4 separate regions of the Homo sapiens genome follow, and regions 1, 3 and 4 are each reported to be linked to region 2. The links are microRNA targets in miRTarBase. Many come from high-throughput screens and were not tested one by one. Region 2 holds a microRNA gene; each other region holds the end of a gene's coding sequence.

What was found. The annotated mature microRNA hsa-miR-6513-3p reads UCAAGUGUCAUCUGUCCCUAG and lies in region 2 at 2,510-2,530, shown strand. An mRNA with a match to its seed (bases 2 to 7 or 8) in the 3' UTR can be bound and repressed. Matches are read on the target gene's strand: a 7mer-m8 pairs with bases 2 to 8, a 7mer-A1 pairs with bases 2 to 7 and ends in A, and an 8mer does both.
Region 1: miRTarBase lists MINDY1 as a target of hsa-miR-6513-3p. The part of its 3' UTR that is shown has no 7-base or 8-base seed match.
Region 3: the mRNA of OTUD4 is a reported target of hsa-miR-6513-3p. Seed matches in the 3' UTR shown: 7mer-m8 at 2,269-2,275 and 7mer-A1 at 1,782-1,788.
Region 4: the mRNA of SLC35E4 is a reported target of hsa-miR-6513-3p. Seed matches in the 3' UTR shown: 7mer-A1 at 3,451-3,457.

Annotation. Positions count from the first base shown.
Region 1 is chr1:150,993,706-150,997,705 of GRCh38, reverse strand. It overlaps MINDY1 (MINDY lysine 48 deubiquitinase 1), which reads left to right. Exons shown (of 10, transcript NM_001376665.1): 9 at 1-82; 10 at 339-871. The coding sequence ends at 419. ANXA9 (annexin A9) reads right to left here. Exons shown (of 14, transcript NM_003568.3): 13 at 3,007-3,129; 14 at 2,072-2,446. The coding sequence ends at 2,384. Among named protein-coding and RNA genes, the nearest start is that of MINDY1, 11 kb to the left of the region's middle. RefSeq lists enhancers at 1-161, 1,511-1,730.
Region 2 is chr2:218,278,045-218,282,656 of GRCh38, reverse strand. It overlaps MIR6513 (microRNA 6513), which reads left to right and starts at 2,469; the gene lies at 2,469-2,532. All of the region lies in intron 2 of PNKD (PNKD metallo-beta-lactamase domain containing), which reads right to left. It overlaps TMBIM1 (transmembrane BAX inhibitor motif containing 1), which reads left to right. Exons shown (of 12, transcript NM_022152.6): 2 at 476-717; 3 at 2,531-2,631; 4 at 3,304-3,368; 5 at 3,566-3,619; 6 at 4,092-4,142. The coding sequence starts at 516.
Region 3 is chr4:145,134,159-145,138,158 of GRCh38, forward strand. It overlaps OTUD4 (OTU deubiquitinase 4), which reads right to left. Exons shown (of 21, transcript NM_001366057.1): 21 at 1-4,000. The coding sequence ends at 3,272. Among named protein-coding and RNA genes, the nearest start is that of ABCE1, 38 kb to the left of the region's middle.
Region 4 is chr22:30,646,769-30,650,768 of GRCh38, reverse strand. It overlaps SLC35E4 (solute carrier family 35 member E4), which reads right to left. Exons shown (of 2, transcript NM_001001479.4): 2 at 2,876-4,000. The coding sequence ends at 3,738. Among named protein-coding and RNA genes, the nearest start is that of SLC35E4, 13 kb to the right of the region's middle. RefSeq lists an enhancer at 3,997-4,000.

The DNA of each region.
Region 1 (4,000 bases), not on the chromosome of region 2:
CCAGCAGCTTCAGCAAGAGGAGTATCAACAGCAGCAGGCAGCGCAGCCAGTGCGGATGCGGACGCGGGTCCTGTCACTGCAGGTGGGCTGCTGCCTGGGCGCCCACACTCCCGGTTTCCACCTCATGCTTTGCCGGGTCCAGAACACCTGTTATTCCTGCACTGGTCTCTTCAAGGTTTCTTCTCTCAGAGTCCTTCCCCTGCCTGTCCCTCTCCCCTGGAGCCCCTTCCTGTCTTCCTCTCCCTACTCTCTGTCCCAATCCTGACACCCCTTCTTCTAGAATCTCTTCTTGTGCTCTTCCAAGGAAGTTCAGTGACCAATTGTTAAATCCGATACAGGGGAGAGGAGCCACATCTGGACGCCCAGCCGGGGAGCGTCGGCAGAGGCCGAAGCACGAGTCAGACTGCATTCTGCTGTAGCTCTGCCCCAGTGCCAGGCTGGCCTGCCCCTTCTTCCAGAGGCTATGGCTAGTTGGCTTGCTCCCCCGCCTCCACCCCTGAGATGTGCTGGATAACTTATTTATGGACTGTTGGGGATGAGAGCAGGCAACAAATGCCAAGGTCAGACTTGGTAATGTCCTTGACCTCACGTGCTGCTGCCTTCTCTGCCTCCCATCCAGGGCAACACTAGGATTGGTGGGTTTCTGGTTCTCAACTCCCGGTCCCTGAATAGTCACACGTATGTACAGACTGAGGCTCTGGGGTGAGGTCCCTATCCAGAATGCATCTCTTCTGCTTCCCATCCCTGCTGCCTGGATGCTCCTGATCACCTAGGCAGGCCTGTCTCCAGTTGTTTCAGAGCTTAATTTGGGTTTCTATCTCTTATTTGTAATGCCTTCCTGGGGTTTGGAAATAAAACTTCTGGCCGGGCACGGTGGCTCACTCCTGTAATCTCAACAATTTGAGAGGCCAAGGTGGGCGGATCACCTGAGGTTAGGAGTTCGAGACCAGCCTGCCCAAAAAGGTGAAACCCCGTCTCTACTAAAAATACAAGAAATTAGCTGGGCGTCATGGTGGGCGCCTGTAATCCCAGCTACTCGGGAGGCTGAGGCAGGAGAATCACTTGAACCTGGGAGGTGAAAGTTGCAGTGAGCCGAGATCGCACCATTGCACTCCAGCCTGGGCGACAAGAGCAAAACTGTCTAAAAAAAAAAAAAACCTTCTTTCCTGAGATCTGTTGTTTGCCTTACCCTGAAGCAATAGGGTTAAGTATTTGACCCAATTGAAGAATGCAAAAAGCGGGAGGTGGGTCAGAGGCAGGAAGGTGGTTACCTGTCATTTCTTTTTTTCTTTTTTTTTTTTTTTTGAGATGGAGCCTCGCTGTATTGCCCAGGCTGGAGTGCAGTGGTGCAATCTGAGCTCACTGCAACCTCCGCCTCCCGGATTCAAGCGATTCTCCTACCTCAGCCTCCTGAGTAGCTGGGACTACAGGCATGCGCCACTGCGCCCAGCTAATTTTTGTATTTTTAGTAGAGACGGTTTCGCCACTTTGGTCAGGCTAGTCTTGAATTCCTGACCTCAAGTAATCCGCCTGCCTTGGCCTCCCGAAGTGCTGGAATTACAGGCGTGAGCCACTGCGCCCAGCTACCTGTCATTTCTAATATAGCCTGCAGGGGGAACCAAAGCCTGACTTTTTGTTTTTGTTTCTGTTTTTGTTTTTGTTTTCTATGGGAAATAGTGCTCTCCTGGGAGGTGGGTTTCCAAATCTCTGCTTGGACACATGAATTTGAGGGTTGTGCTCTCCACTAACCCAAGAATTCCCATGCTGGGGAGGGTAGCTTGGCCCTCCGCTTGCTTCCCAGTTCATACAGATGGTCCTTTGCTCCCTCTATTTCTCACCTTGTTCTAATGCCTGTTTCTCAATTATTTTGCCTGAAGTTTCCTGGAGAATGAGGGTGAGGGGAGACCTGGAGTGGGAGACCTGGGTGTGGATTACTGTAGCACTAAGGCAAAACAGGATTCCTGCGGAATAGCCAAGTGCACATCAAAGGCACTTCCAACTCCAGTGCCTCTTCCCGGTCCATGTCCTGCTCCACCCAACCTTCAATCAGGGAACACAAACAACAGCGAAGTTTGCCAAAAGAATTCGAGTATCAGTGAGATGTTCTGGCCAGGGTACAGGAGGGATGAGTGAGGCAGAAACTATCAAAGAAAACTCATTTCCCCACACCCAAGAAGGAGCTGGATGACCCAGGTACAGATATAATTTTGAGATGGGAAAATTAAGGGATTTTAAAGAAACAGTTCCAGCCTCAACAAGAAGCTAGAGAATGTGGTGCTCAGTGAGGGGTTATCCTACTTGGAGGCCCAGCTGGTCTCCCAGGTTCAGCCAAACACGGAAATCTCAGATCCTCGGATGTCATGTGGGGTGGGGCAGGGAAGTCTCACATGTCTTCAGCCCTGCACAAGGCCAGGAGGGCTGACTGGCAATCCCCTTTCACTGCATCCTGCAGACAAGGGAATTCAGTGTTAGAAAGATCCACCACCACTATGGCCCAAGTGCTCTCTCCCCTCCTTTGGGCTGGTCCATCACAGTTCATCTGGGAGGGAAGGGTCCTCCCGGGAGCTCAGAGTCCTGCACTACATTAACCAAAGACTCCTGGGTTTTCTTTTTTAAGATGGAGTCTTGCCCTGTCACCCAGGTGGGAGTGCAGTGGCACGATCTTGGCTCACTGCAACCTCTGCCTTCTGGGTTCAAGCGACTCTCCTGCCTCAGCCTCCTGAGTAGCTGGGATTACAGGTGCACGCCACCATGCCTGGCTAATTTTTGTATTTTTAGTAGAGACGGGGTTTCACCATGTTGGTCAGGGTGGTCTTGAACTCCTGACCTCGTGATCCGCCCACCTCAGCCTCTCAAAGTGCTGGGATTACAGGCGTGAGCCACTGTGCCTGGCTAACTACTGGGTTTTCTATGGGGCAAGAATATGCTCAGCTGTGTGCAGGGAGTGAGGGTGGAGGTGAGGAGTGAAGGCCTGAGGCTCCAGGCTAAGAAGTAGCCAAGTTTCACCTGGAGAGAAGAGTAGAGGGACTTCCCAAATTTCTTCCTGAACTCAGCTCTGATACTCAGAAGGTCAGTCTCACATCGAGAGATAAGGATGCGAATCAGGACTTGGTAATTGGGCTCAGTTTCCTAGTAGGGGAAGAAAGAGATGGGGGGTAGTTAGTGAGAGTCTCACTGAGAGTAGGGGTTGAATGGCTTGGAGGGTTATTGTAGGAAGGGGAGGCAAGGTGGGAGTCAAGGGATAAGAGTGTACATTATACATTATCTCGGGACAAAAGTTATGTTTGTCCATCCTCAAGGAAGATGACACAGCAGGAAAGATCAGTCTCTGTGGGGGCAGCTTGAGTATTTATTTCTTTCCACATGTCTTTCCTGCCCCTACCATTAGCTTAGAGCTGTGTACCTCCAGAATTTGGTGGTGAGCAGCTCCAAAGATAGGTACACCAGGAAGGCTAGAAAAGATTTGGTGCATATAAAGACTGCCAGCATGAAAACCAGGAAAACTGCTTTTAACTTTCAAGTTAGTGAATATCCAAGGAGGATATACCTGCCCTATCCCTAAACTGAGCTGATGAGGCTCTGATAGGGTTCAAGGTTGTGTGACTTCTAGTTCTGATTCCAACCCAATAGGGCCATCTCACAGCCCCATCTCTGCATATTAGTTTCTCCGGTTGGACCCTTAGGCTGAAACATTGCTATCTTCCTCCTGTACATGCAGCAGGCCTGTTTTTTGGCTAAAGAAAGTAATGAAAGGTTCAGTTTAGAAATAACAGGCCAGGCACAGTGGCTCATGCCTGTAATCCCAGCACTTTGGGAGGATGAGGCGCGTGGATCATCTGAGGTAGGAGTTCGAGACCAGCCTGACCAAAATGGTGAAACCCCGTCTCTACTAAAAATACAAAAATAAGCCAGGCATGGTGGTGGGTGCCTGCAATCCCAGCTACTTGGAAGGCTGAGGCAGGAGAATTGCTTGAACCCAGGAGGCGGAGGTTGCAGTGAG
Region 2 (4,612 bases):
CTGGCTTCCAGGCCTGGCATCCCCGTCAGCTGTGGCAGGGGCAGAGCTGACCCTTTCAGAGGGTCCCAGCTGGCCCTGTGAGTCGCCAGGAGGCTGTGCCTGGCCCATCTGGCTTCTTCGCTGGTTCTGCCATCAAGCCACCAAAACTGGAAGGTTTTCTTAAACCACAACAGGGAGTTCCCAGGCTCCCTGGTTCCCTCTCTCCTCAGCGAATCCTTCCTCCTGCTTTCCTATGGCTGGGGAGCTGCACAGTGAGAGGCCTGTGGACAAGAAGCAGGCGCAAAGGCAGGAGGGACAGGAGCCCAGTTGGTGGGGAGGTGGCCTGTGGACAGCAAATCACACGCTGCCCTCTAAGGAGAAAATAGGTGGTGTTCCTCTCCACGGAGGCAGCCTGGACAAGGCTGGAAGTGGGCCCATGAGGCTGAGTGAGCTGGGCCTGGGCATTCACGATTGCTTTTCTCCTCTCCCATTTCAGGTCCCAGCAGCTGGGGTTCCCCCTCAGCCCGTGAGCAGCCATGTCCAACCCCAGCGCCCCACCACCATATGAAGACCGCAACCCCCTGTACCCAGGCCCTCCGCCCCCTGGGGGCTATGGGCAGCCATCTGTCCTGCCAGGAGGGTATCCTGCCTACCCTGGCTACCCGCAGCCTGGCTACGGTCACCCTGCTGGCTACCCACAGCCCATGCCCCCCACCCACCCGATGCCCATGAACTACGGTGAGTCCTGGAAGGGCAGATGGAAGGTGGGTGGGAGGGACAGCACTTGGAGCAGATGAGGCCACCGCCTCCTGCCCCTTTTCTCTTCTAGTTTCCCTTAAATCCCTTTCTCATCTTCTCTGTTGAGATCTCTCCCTCTGTTTCTGTCTTTGTTACCCTCCACTTTTTGCCTCAGCAACTGGCCCCCAGCCACTTGCTGCCCCCTTTGTTCAAGGAGATCCATGAGGCATGTCCCAGAACGTACACACCACAGGAGAATGGGGCTGGGCCAAGTAATGACTCCTGAGGGGTTACCTCAGGGCACCAGCTCTGTTTCCCAACAAGCGGCCAACAAGCTGCTGCCACCTCCCAGACCTGTCGACTTCCTTAGGAACTCCTTTGGGAACCTGAACCACTTTCCTCATCCTTTAAAGTGAAATCTGACTTTTGCAAAAGACATTTGGAGCCAAGTTTGGTAAACATCATGGCAGGGACATGCTTGTGTTTGGTCAGAAATGAGGTGAGGCCGGCCGCGGTGGCTCACGCCTGTAATCCCAGCACTCTGGGAGGCTGAGGCGAGCAGATCACCTGAGGTCAGGAATTCGAGACCAGCCTGGCCAACATGGCAAAACCCCATCTCCACTAAAAATACAAAAACTTAGCCGGGTGTGGTGGCGTGCACCTGTAATCCCAGCTACTCAGGAGGCTGAGGCAGGAGAATCGCTTGCAATCCCAGGAGGTGGAGGTTGCAGTGAGCCAGGATCGCACTACTGCACTTCAGCCTGAGCAACAGAGCAAGACTCTGTCTCAAAAAAAAAACCAAAAAAAAAACAAAAAACAAAACAAAACAAAAAAAGAGGCCGGGTACGGTGGCTCATGCCTGTAATCTCAACACTTTGGGAGGCTGAGATGGGCGGATCACGAGTTTGAGACCAGCCTGGCCAACATGGTGAAACCCTGTCTCTACCAAAAATACAAAAAATGAGCCGGGCGTGGTGGCATGCGTCTGTAATCCCAGCTACTCAGGAGGCTAAGGCAGGAGAATTGCTTGAACCCGGGAGGTGGAGGTTGCGGTGAGCCGAGATCACGCCTTTGCACTCCAGCTTGGGCAACAAGACCGAAACTCCATCTCAAAAAAAAAAAAAAAAAAAAAAAGGAAATGAGGTGAAGTTAGAGTGCAGTGAGTCTTCCTGGGTGGCTCAAGCGTGGATTTTAAAAGTAGTTCCCAAAGAGGCATTCAGGCATTCAGGCATTCAGGGAATGTTTGCAGCCCTGCAGCATCTCTGAACCCCAGAGGGGTGTCAGCCAGCTCTCACCTGGACATGTGCGCTGGTGCGGATCTGCGCATGGGTCCTGCACAGTCACGCACACCCTTTGCACACCTGCCTCTGTGAGGCTGATGCAGATCCCTGTCTTCACCTCTATCCCTGCTGCTGCACAAACTGCGCTCTGCCGCCCTCCTTTTCTCCTACCCTCTGTCCCCATCCCCTGTTCTGCCCTGGCTGGCTGCCCCAGTGGATGCCCATACCTGCTCCTGCCTGGCTTCCCCACTACATCGTGACCCCCCAGTGAACCCCCAGTGGCGTGGGCTGGGCACACAGGAGCCCTCCACAGATGCACGTGAGGAACGTTTCCCACCTAAGCCCCCTCGTGACAGGCCGGCTCTGGGTCACTCTGAGGGTGTCTAGAAGACCCCAGCTTGGGAGAAGAGTTCCTGTTATAACACTTGTCTTTTGGCTGGAGATCCCTGAGACTTTGAGATTGTCAGGGAGGCTTTGGGATTGACGCCACATGTCTCAGGTCCCCAGCTGAGTCAAGTGTCATCTGTCCCTAGGCCCAGGCCATGGCTATGATGGGGAGGAGAGAGCAGTGAGTGATAGCTTCGGGCCTGGAGAGTGGGATGACCGGAAAGTGCGACACACTTTTATCCGAAAGGTAAGATACGCGCTGGGAGGTGGGTGTACCTGGGGCCCCTCAGGCTGTGGGAATGGGAAGTGGGTAGGCCACAGTAGCCCCAGGGCATCAATTCCATGAAATACACTGGCTGCCTGTCTTCTCTAGCCTTGTCTGCTTCTCAGAGGGGCACCTGGCTTCTCTAACCCCAGGGTTCCCTCTCTTTTTGCACCTCTCTTCTTGACCATGTTTTGGGAGGACACATTCAGTCTGGGAGAATCTCCTAGGTGGGTTCTGCCACAGCGCCCGCCTTCCCCAGACATCTTTCTCCCTTTAGACTATAGGCAGCTTGGAGCCAGAAATGATCCTACTCGCTTGTAACCCACCCTCTCCATCTCACAGCTGCATAGAGCGTGCAGACTGAGCTGCTGGGAGTGCAGAGGCCATACTGGTAGAGTATGGTGGCCAGGCAGGGCAAGTCAGTAGTCACCGAGGCTGGTGTTGGACAGGAGGGGAGATGGCAGGGAGCATGGGAGCGGGGCTGAGGAAGAAGTGCACATTGCCTCTGAGCCAGGCATCTCACTGGGGTCGCCTCTGGGCCAGGCTGCAGCTAGGGAGGGTTCTTGAGTGGGAGGAAAGTACTGGGGGCTGGCAGCTTCCTGGGGCAGGCCAGGGGTGCCGGATGGTGACCCATGCCCGGCCGTCTGTGTCCAGGTTTACTCCATCATCTCCGTGCAGCTGCTCATCACTGTGGCCATCATTGCTATCTTCACCTTTGTGTAAGTCTCTAGGCTTTGCCACCCACTCCTACTGCCCTGGGGGTTCAGGGTCACCTGCTGGGGGTGTGGGTGGCGGTGGGCCCTGCTCTCAGGGTGACCATGGGCAATTAGAGAAGGTGAAGCCAGGGCTGCCTGGCTGGCCTGGGTGGGGCAGACAAGCCTCAGGGTGACTACTCCTGTCCTCCTGTGCCCCACAGGGAACCTGTCAGCGCCTTTGTGAGGAGAAATGTGGCTGTCTACTACGTGTCCTAGTGAGTGTGTGCTCCTCTGTGGTTGGGCAGGGAGGCAGGGGTGGCAGCTTCTGTTTCTAGGTGACCAGCTTTGCTCAGGGCAGGATCAAAATGCTTTTTGAGAGGGCCCCCAAGTTGGTGCCAGTTTCCCGTGCCAGAGGGTGTGGGTGTGCGTGCCCAGATGAGTAGCAGACCCCTAGAACTCGAGAGCAAGAGTGGGACCTGCTGGTGGTGGCGTGCACGCTGCGCTGCAGCCCCCATGTCCTCTCAGCCCGTCAGCTGCAGCCTCCCCAGACCTCCTTCCTGGCCGGAGCCTGGTGCTTCAGAGCATCTCAGTGACCCTGGCTGGGGGTAATCTCGTTCTTGCTTCCTGTTGAGTTGCTTCCCCTCAGACTTCCAAACGGCTATTTGGGCCCCAAATCACTGGCCTGGTGTGTGCTGCCAAGCGGGGCAGATTTGGGCCTGAACTGCTTCCCCATCTCTTTGTCCCTAGTGCTGTCTTCGTTGTCACCTACCTGATCCTTGCCTGCTGCCAGGGACCCAGGTGAGTCCCAGAGACTTAACACAGTGAGAGGGGTGACAGGGATTGGGATGGGGGCCGAGTATTTTGGAAAGAAGGATTCCTTTATAGCAGCTGAATGGAAACTTACAAGAAATGAGGAGGAGGATGACGATGACAGCTACTGTTCAGGTGTATACAAAGGACCATGTGTGTTTAGGAGCTAACTAGCTGTCACTCTTATAGTAACCCTGCAAGACAGGTAGCATTTTAGCCAGTTAACAAATAGGAAGAACCCGAGGCTCAAAGAGGCTGAGTAACTTTCTCCCCATCACACAGGCAGTCAGTTTAAGAGTTGCAAACCAATCCAGGTGTTTCTGGCGCCACAACACAGGTCTGTCTCATTGGCCCATGTTGTCCCTGCGTACCACACCTGAACAGGTGCCAAAGGCCATGCCAACCTCCCTCCTTGGAGTCAAGGCTTAATCCTCCAGGCACAGGAGCCAAGCGCTTCC
Region 3 (4,000 bases), not on the chromosome of region 2:
ATGGCTGACATTAGTAGCAAAACCTTAGTTATCTGAAAATAACATATTGGAAATGAGACATTATTAGGATTTTAAACAAACAATAGCATTTAGACATAAAGTAGGAAGCAAAATACAGTAAACAGAAATAGTGTAGCCAAATATGCATTCTCTTCAGCTACACTAGAGTGGACCTTGCTTAGTACCCTTAAGTAAAAGACAAAACATTTACCTCATCTAAAAATGAAGGTAAAACGAAAGAGGCAAAAATAAATATTGCTAGTTTCTAGGATGGCTGAATGTTTTCTAAACCAGAAATGGTTAGAAAGGAACTTTATTGCACCAAGTCAATCATAAGCAAGTTTGCAGTTCACAGGCATTTTAATTCAACCTTGAGTCACAAAGGAAACAACACGCTGCAAGAATACAGTCTGCATTAAATAAGATATATCAGCATTGTGGTCTGGGAAAACCTATGCTTGCCAGGACAAGGCAGGGTCTGAGCTTAGGTCTGCCATGAAAATGAATTTGTGGGTTATCAGTAAACAGTATGAGGACTACACAGATGCCAGCATCCTGCTGCCAAGGAGACATGGGGCAAGAGTTGAAGATTTGAGAGGAAATGAAGAGACATACACAACACCAAAGGGAAAAGGGGGCTGGAATCAAGTTCAGCCAAAGCACCTAACACAAAAAACAGGTGAGCTTTGGTCAGTCTGTTCTTCAAAATATGTATGATCATAATATGGTGAAGTTTCATAATTTCCAACTCAAAAATACAAATGATCCTCAGTTCTATACTTTTGCCTCTATTCTCTTATAAAGAAATATGTCAACATAACAGTATGACATAACAGTTAAAATGAAGGACAAAAGCTTGCTTATCCTTAGTTTGACCTCAGCATAAGGCAAAATCCCCTGGACTAATACATTTAAAAACAAACTTAAAGGAAAAAAAGCGAAACCAACCTTCATGCAAAGATTAATTTTAAAACTATCAAAAGTCAGTTCTTTTATTCCAGAGGTCACTGAGAAAAGTACCATCTGCTAAAATTCTCTTTCAAGCACTTCTTCCATCATATCCTAGAGGTGAGATATGGGAAACAGAAAGCAAATCAGTGTTTCCTTCAGGAGCTATATTCTGTTACTCAATTGAGGTAAGACAAAGTGACAATGAAGATATGAGTAGTATTTCCTTCCAATTTTTAAACATTTTCAGAAGCTGAGATCAAACCCCAGTCAATAAAATGCAGGACACTAGAAGCAACAACTTATTTTGGACTCCTGAGATCAAACACATTGAACTTTCAAATCTGGTGTTTGTATCAAAATGTGATTTTCATTAAAATCAGGTAAGCTAGTCCTACATAAAAAAGCATGAGCTGAAAGTGGAGGACCCTCTATCTTCTCATTCCTTAACTGAGCCACCGATGTTAAGAAAAAAATGGCTTAAGCGGTACCTTCAACAACTATTCTAGTTAAGAAGGTGACAACAAATTCCTTTCAATAGGTTCTCTCAAGAAAAGTTTTCCACACAACCATCCCAGTCTTTACAATTTTTTACCTAGCACCATCATAATAAAATGTTATCTTTCAAAGTGCTCTCTAAAATCCTGTTACATTATCTAAATGCTAATCACTACTCAAATCAGCAGTTACACAGACGTTAGGTAATTAAAACAGCACAGAGGTAAATAACCATTATTACAGTACAGTGGCGATTCACTAGCCCAACTGGCATCCAAACATTCCCATAGGTTATCAGAGAACCCAGAAAACCCATCTGTTTCAGTTTGTCAAATTCAAGTGAATTGTATTTTCTTAAGTAATTTGCTTTACAAAAAAAGAAAGTCACCGCATCTGGTTTTGGCTAGGTATATTACACATGGCATGCAAAGAGAAATTACTACTATGTTATTTGCATAGCACTCAAACTTCCTGATCAGAAGATAATCTCAACATAATAAAAGAGTGGATTTTCACATTGGTATGCACAAATAAAGAATATAAGCTACAGTTATTTTTACAAAATAACACAGATGAATGAATACTGTGTTAATTCAGAGTTCAATCTCCAAATGAGAACAGAGTGCAACATGCAAAGGGAACCTCTAGTGAATACTGCAAAGACTGGAAGAAAACAGAATGTAAGATGTTACCTACCTAAGGGTAACAAGCTATAAAATACAAAGCAAAACCATTTTCTAGCAGCATCCTCTAGAAAAGAACTAGAAGTCACAATCATATTATCTTCTATACAATAGTTCCAGCCCTGACAAGTAGAACATGCAAGTGTAAAGTGAAAGTGATACACAACCAATGGTGCGGGGGGGGGGGGGAGGAAGAAAACAACTCTAGAAACCTGTCAAGCTAAAAATTTTTAACATTTCTTCTCACAAAATATTTAGAATCTGTCAGTGCATTAGTGTTAAAGTGGCATTAAAAAAACTTCTGCAGTTCTAACTGATGCAGATTATTTTCAAAATGCATAGCATCTACATTTCTTTCGAGTAGGCACCATGATATTTACACCAGTGCTAAGAATTCTTGGTGGAAACAGCCATTTCATTGGATTTCCTACTATTCTTCTATGCAATCTCAACAAATACCAAAATTCAAAAATATACCTTATGAATATTAAAAGAACTATATACAACATTGCTAAGACACAGTTAATAGGCTGCCTTATGTGAATATTAAAGAGAAGACATTATTCAAGTTTGACAGATATTGAGATGAAAGGCCTTTGGGTTGGAAGCATTTTAAAAGACAACAGTGTTTTAGGCTGAGAATTGTTTGAGCCCAGTTTATGACTAAGGCATTGCATAATAAAATATACATTTCTATTTGGTGCAACGTTATGTTTGGAATCTATAGTGTGTCAAATGGTATATTTTCTTGTCACTTTAGTAAACACTATAAAGCACACATTTCCAACATCTGAAATCAAACTTATAAACTTATAAGGAAAAAAGCCAAACACTAAATCTATAATGTTTTATATTAAGCTGTTTATAAAAAATACTTTAACAAACTTATCTTCTACTTTTTACGGGGACAGTCACTTGATCAACAAACAGATTCTGAATGAAGAAAACTGGCAATGCCAGGAATTAACCTGCCCCCTTGAACTCATGTCCAAAATGTCTTGTCCAGTATGGGAGTGAAGGTAAGGGGGGCTGGGGAGAGGAAAGAGTTCCAACTGCGGTTTTTACTTTATTGTATTTTTTTTAAAGCCTTCAGAAACATTCCACCTAAGAGTTTCTGTTAGAAAATACTTCGGCAACAACCATCAAGTGTGCTGTCCCCTATGGCCATCTCCCATCCCTGATCTCCTCCTATCTCCCCTAAATGGTCGCCCTCTGACATTTCGATGGTACTGATAACCTTCATCCCGACTTCTGCTTGGCTGTCCTTTCCAGGACTCCTCACTTCTCACATGTTGATATCCACCCCTACCAGAATAGCCCCAATCACTTTTGTACTTCCTGCTTCCATAAGTTTGATTATAGAACTGCTTGGATCTACCACTTCTCAAAATATTAGACACTTCATTTTCATCTTCTGAACTCTCTTCTTTTGGTCTTTGCACTCTGCTATCAACAGAGTTGGCCCCAGGGCTGACCACATCAGCAGCAGTCTTAGGATCTTTTACTTTTTCTGTTTTTTCTTTCAGGCTTTGAATGGTCCTTTTAGGTTCAAGTTCAACAGGCACAGTTTCTCTCTCTCTGTTTAGAATCTGAGTGGGAGGATGAGCCTTTCCCTCTGCTACAGGAGGGATGGAAGCCAATGCCGTATCTGCCTTTCGTGTCTGGGAAGATTGCTCTGTCCGGCCTTCGTCCGGCTTACTGCTCACACTTGCTTCAGGGAGAGAATGTACATGTTCACCCCTGGCTTCTGGAAACTCATCTACTGTTGAAACTGAACCACAATCTTTAGACAGATCCAGATTTTCCAGAGACAGATCCAATTCTCCTTTTTCATCAGAGGGCAGGACAATATTCTGCCTCATTACTGGATT
Region 4 (4,000 bases), not on the chromosome of region 2:
CAGGCTGAGGAGGGGTGGGGCAGATAACACGAGAAGCCTTGAGGAGGAAGTGGAAGCATCTGTGATAAGACTGAGGCCTTCCTAGGCCTTTGTCCATTACAGCTCCAGAAGCTGGTGGGGGATTAGGTTCCACTGCTGCCCCCACTCAATGCACAGAGGCACAGGTGGAGAGGACCTTGTGCAAGGTCACAGAGCTCAGATGTACCAAAGCCAGGATTCGAGCACAAGTCAAACTCCAGAGCCCCTGTTCTTTTTTATTTTTGTTTATTTTTTGAGATGGAGTCTCATTCTGTCACACAAGCTGGAGTGCAGTGGCGTAATCTTGGCTCACAGCAATCTCTGCCTCCTAGGCTCAAGCGATTCTCCTGCCTCAGCCTTCCGAGTAGCTGGGATTACAGGTCCCCACCACCATGTCCGTCTAATTTTTTTTTTTTTTGAGACGAAGTCTTGCTCTTGTCCCCCAGGCTACAGTGCAATGGCATGATCTCGGCTCACTGCAACCTCCGCCTCCCAGGTTCAAGCGATTCTCCTGCCTCAGCCTCCCAAGTAGCTGGGATTACAGGCGGCTGCCACCATGCCCAGCTAATTTTTGTATTTTTAGTAGAGACGGGGTTTCACCATGTTGGCCAGGCTGGTCTTGAACTCCTGACTTCAGGTGATCCGCCCCCCTCGGACTCCCAAAGTACTGGGATTACAGGCGTGAGCCACCACATCCCACCAAACCCAAGCTTTTTGACTCCCAATCCAGCGCTCTCTGTGCCCACTGCTGGGAGGGGTGATAGGCATGGCTTTGGCTGTGGCCTTGGGGGAATCACCTCAATGTCTAATGGTCCTGAATCTGGTGACAAACCAGCTCCCAGGTCACACACAACCCCAATTACCTGTCCCCACAACCACCAGGGGCAGGCTTTAATCTGATGTGAGGCTCACTCATTAGCCAAGCATCCCACAAGGCCTAGAAATGAGGGTGGTACAGGGAGGTCCCTGCTATGGCAGTGGGGGCCAGTTGGATGGGAAAGGGTCCTGAGTCACCGAGGAGGATTTGACCACAGCCATCCATCCCTCCATCCTGCCTGGCAAAGCCTGAGAGTGGAGGCCAGAGGTACCCAAGCTGCTCAGGGACTGGGCTGGGCCAGCGGCATCTCTGAGTCATAGAGAGGGTGGGTGACAGGTGACTCAGCCCAGGCCGACTTCCCCTTCTGTAAGGCAGCCTGGGCGGAGGCTGGAACCAGGAAACCCCATACCGGTCCTCCTAGGCCTTCCCTACCCACTCCCACCCCGCCGTGGGCTGGCCCTTTACTCAGCCCTGTCTAGCACTTGCTGGCACTGTGGTCCCTTACGAATTCTGGTTACTGAATCTGAATGATTCCTCCCTGAATCTCAGTCTCCATAGACCACAGCCCCAGCCTGGTCTAGCTCCTAGTCCTCACACAAATGGGAGACATTTTGCAGATGGTTTCCAGAAAGGTTGGGTGAATACCCCAAGATAAAAGCAGAGCCAGTTGGTGCCATTACCTCCTTCCTCACTCCTGGCCCTGCCCAGCGCTCCTCATTCGAACCCTCTCCATAGGGATCATCAGTTCCATTTTGCAGATCTGGAAGCTGAGGCCTAGGGAAGGGAGGCTCCCAGTCAGGTGGGCAGAGCAGGATTAGGTTCCAGGTGTTCTCACTCCAACTGGGTCCTTATCATCTTTAACAGGTGATCTCCAGGAGAGGTAGCTGGCTGGGGAGAGTTAGGTGTTACAAGAGCCAAGGAAAGGCTCAGAGGTAAATAACAAAGCTGACGCCAGCTGGCGAGTCAGGGAGCTCTGGGGGTTGGGACTCCTGTCTTAGGTTCCCTACATGGGAGCCCTGCTCCCCTATACCCCTGCAAGCCTCCTGAGCACAGTCCCTTGTCAAGACCCTCATCAGCCCTTTTTTTTTTTGAAAGAGATAGGGTCTTGCTCTGTCACCCAGGCTGGAGTGCAGTGGCATGATCATAGTGCACTGCAGCCTCCAACTCCTGGCCTCAAGCGATTGGATTTTTCTTTTCTTTTTTGAGATGGAGTTTCGGTCTTGTTGGCCAAGCTGGAGTGCAGTGGCACAATCTCGGCTCACTGCAACCTCTGCCTCCTGGGTTCCAGCGATTCTCCTGCCTCAGGTGCACGCCAGCAGGCCTGGCTAATTTTTTTGTATTTTTAATAGAGACGGTGTTTCAGCATGTTGGCCAGGCTGGTCTCGAACCCCTGACATCAGGTGATCCGCCCGCCTTGGCCTCCCAAAGTACTGGGATTACAGGTGTGAGCCACCGCGCCCGGCCTGGATTTCTCTTTTTAAAAAGAGTTGCATGTTTGGGTTTTCTCCTCCAGGCAGGGGTTTAAGCTGTGGGAAGGGAGGAGGTTGTTGTAGGAAGCGGGGACTGGACGGAGGGAACAGCATGTACAAAGGTTTCAGTGAGCAGGCCTGGTATCACGGGGAACTGAAAGAAGTCGGTGAGGCTGGAAGGCAGAGCCCAGGGGAAGGGAGACAAGCTGGGTGAGGCTGCAGGTGCCACGTCCTGAGTGAGTTGGGGTCTGGGGTAGGAAATTCTGACTTTGTCCCAAGAGCAGTGAGGAACATCAGAATGTGCACGTTTTAGTGAGATCCCTCTGGGTGAAGGGGTCTGTGTGTAAGATGGAGTAGAGGGGCCAGGCAGAGCAAGGGGGAGGCCACTGCCACTGTCCAGAAGATGGGCAATGGTAGCCCAGCCAGTGGAGGGATTTGAGGGAATGGCACTGGGCTCGGGGTGGGGGGCCAGACAGACTGCGATGGGTAAGGGAGGATGTCCTAGTTTCTGTGTGGGAAGCCTACCACTCTCCCTATATCCCCTCTGTACAACCAACAAATGACACAGGCATACAAGCAAAAATAGTGTATTTGAGGATGGATGACCCAAAATTGGGGGGCCCAGGGGTGAGGCCACAGCAGCTGCCTGGAGTTGGCACAGACTACCCCAACTCCCTAGGGGAGCCCAGCAGCATAGAAGCCCCCCTGCTGGGCCTCCTAGCTGCCTCCCCCCCAGGAGGAAGGATTGTGTAACCGCCAAGAATCATCATCATCGTCATTGTAACAAGTTGAGGTCTTCAAAGTTTGCCCAGCAATTTTTGGCATCGTAATTGATATTAATCATAATAATGACTCTGACAAGCACAGGGACTGTGCCAGGCTTGGACCCACCATCCAGTGGTGTGCAGAGTCTGTGGCAGGGGTGAGGCAGGCAGGGATGGAACGCAGGTCTCCCTGGGAGTCCCCATTCCAATCTCCAAGGCAGCCCTTCCAGAAGGCTCCCCTCCCTGCCATGGCCCCCAGTAGAGGTCACTGCCAGTTCTCCACTTTTTTTTTTTTTTAATTGAGACAGCGTCTCGCTCTGTCTCCCAGGCTGGAGTGCAGTAGCATGCGATCTTGGCTTACTGCAGCCTCGATCTCCAGGGCTCAAGTGATCCTCCCACCTTAGCCTCCCATGTAGCTGGGACTATAGGCACGCGCCACCATGCCCAGCTAATTTTTCTATTTTTAGTAGAGATGAGGTTTTGCCATGTTAGCCAGGCTGGTCTCGAACTCCTGGCCTCAGGTGATCCACCCACCTCGGACTCTGGAAGTGCTGGGATTATAGGCGTGAGCCACCATGCCCAGCCCTGTTCTCCATTCCTTCTATGGCCACAGCGGAGGCTGGATTCAGGCCAGGGCCATCCCAGGTGGCTCCTGAGATCCCCCAGGTCTCAAAGACCCTTGCTGGGCTGGTCCCTCCGCCACAGCCCCCGACGGGCAGCCCAGGAGGCCACGAACTCGCAGTTGTGGTAAAGGAACATTCCTGAAAGAGTGAGTGCGATGCCCACGTAGCTGAGGGCACTGAGGCGGCTGCCAAACAACAGCCGGGACAGGATGAGGTTGCCCACCACGGTGAGGTTGCCCAGGACGTGGACGGTGAGGGCAGAGGTGAGGGCCAGCAGGGAGAAGCTGGCCAGGTTATAGAGAACAGACA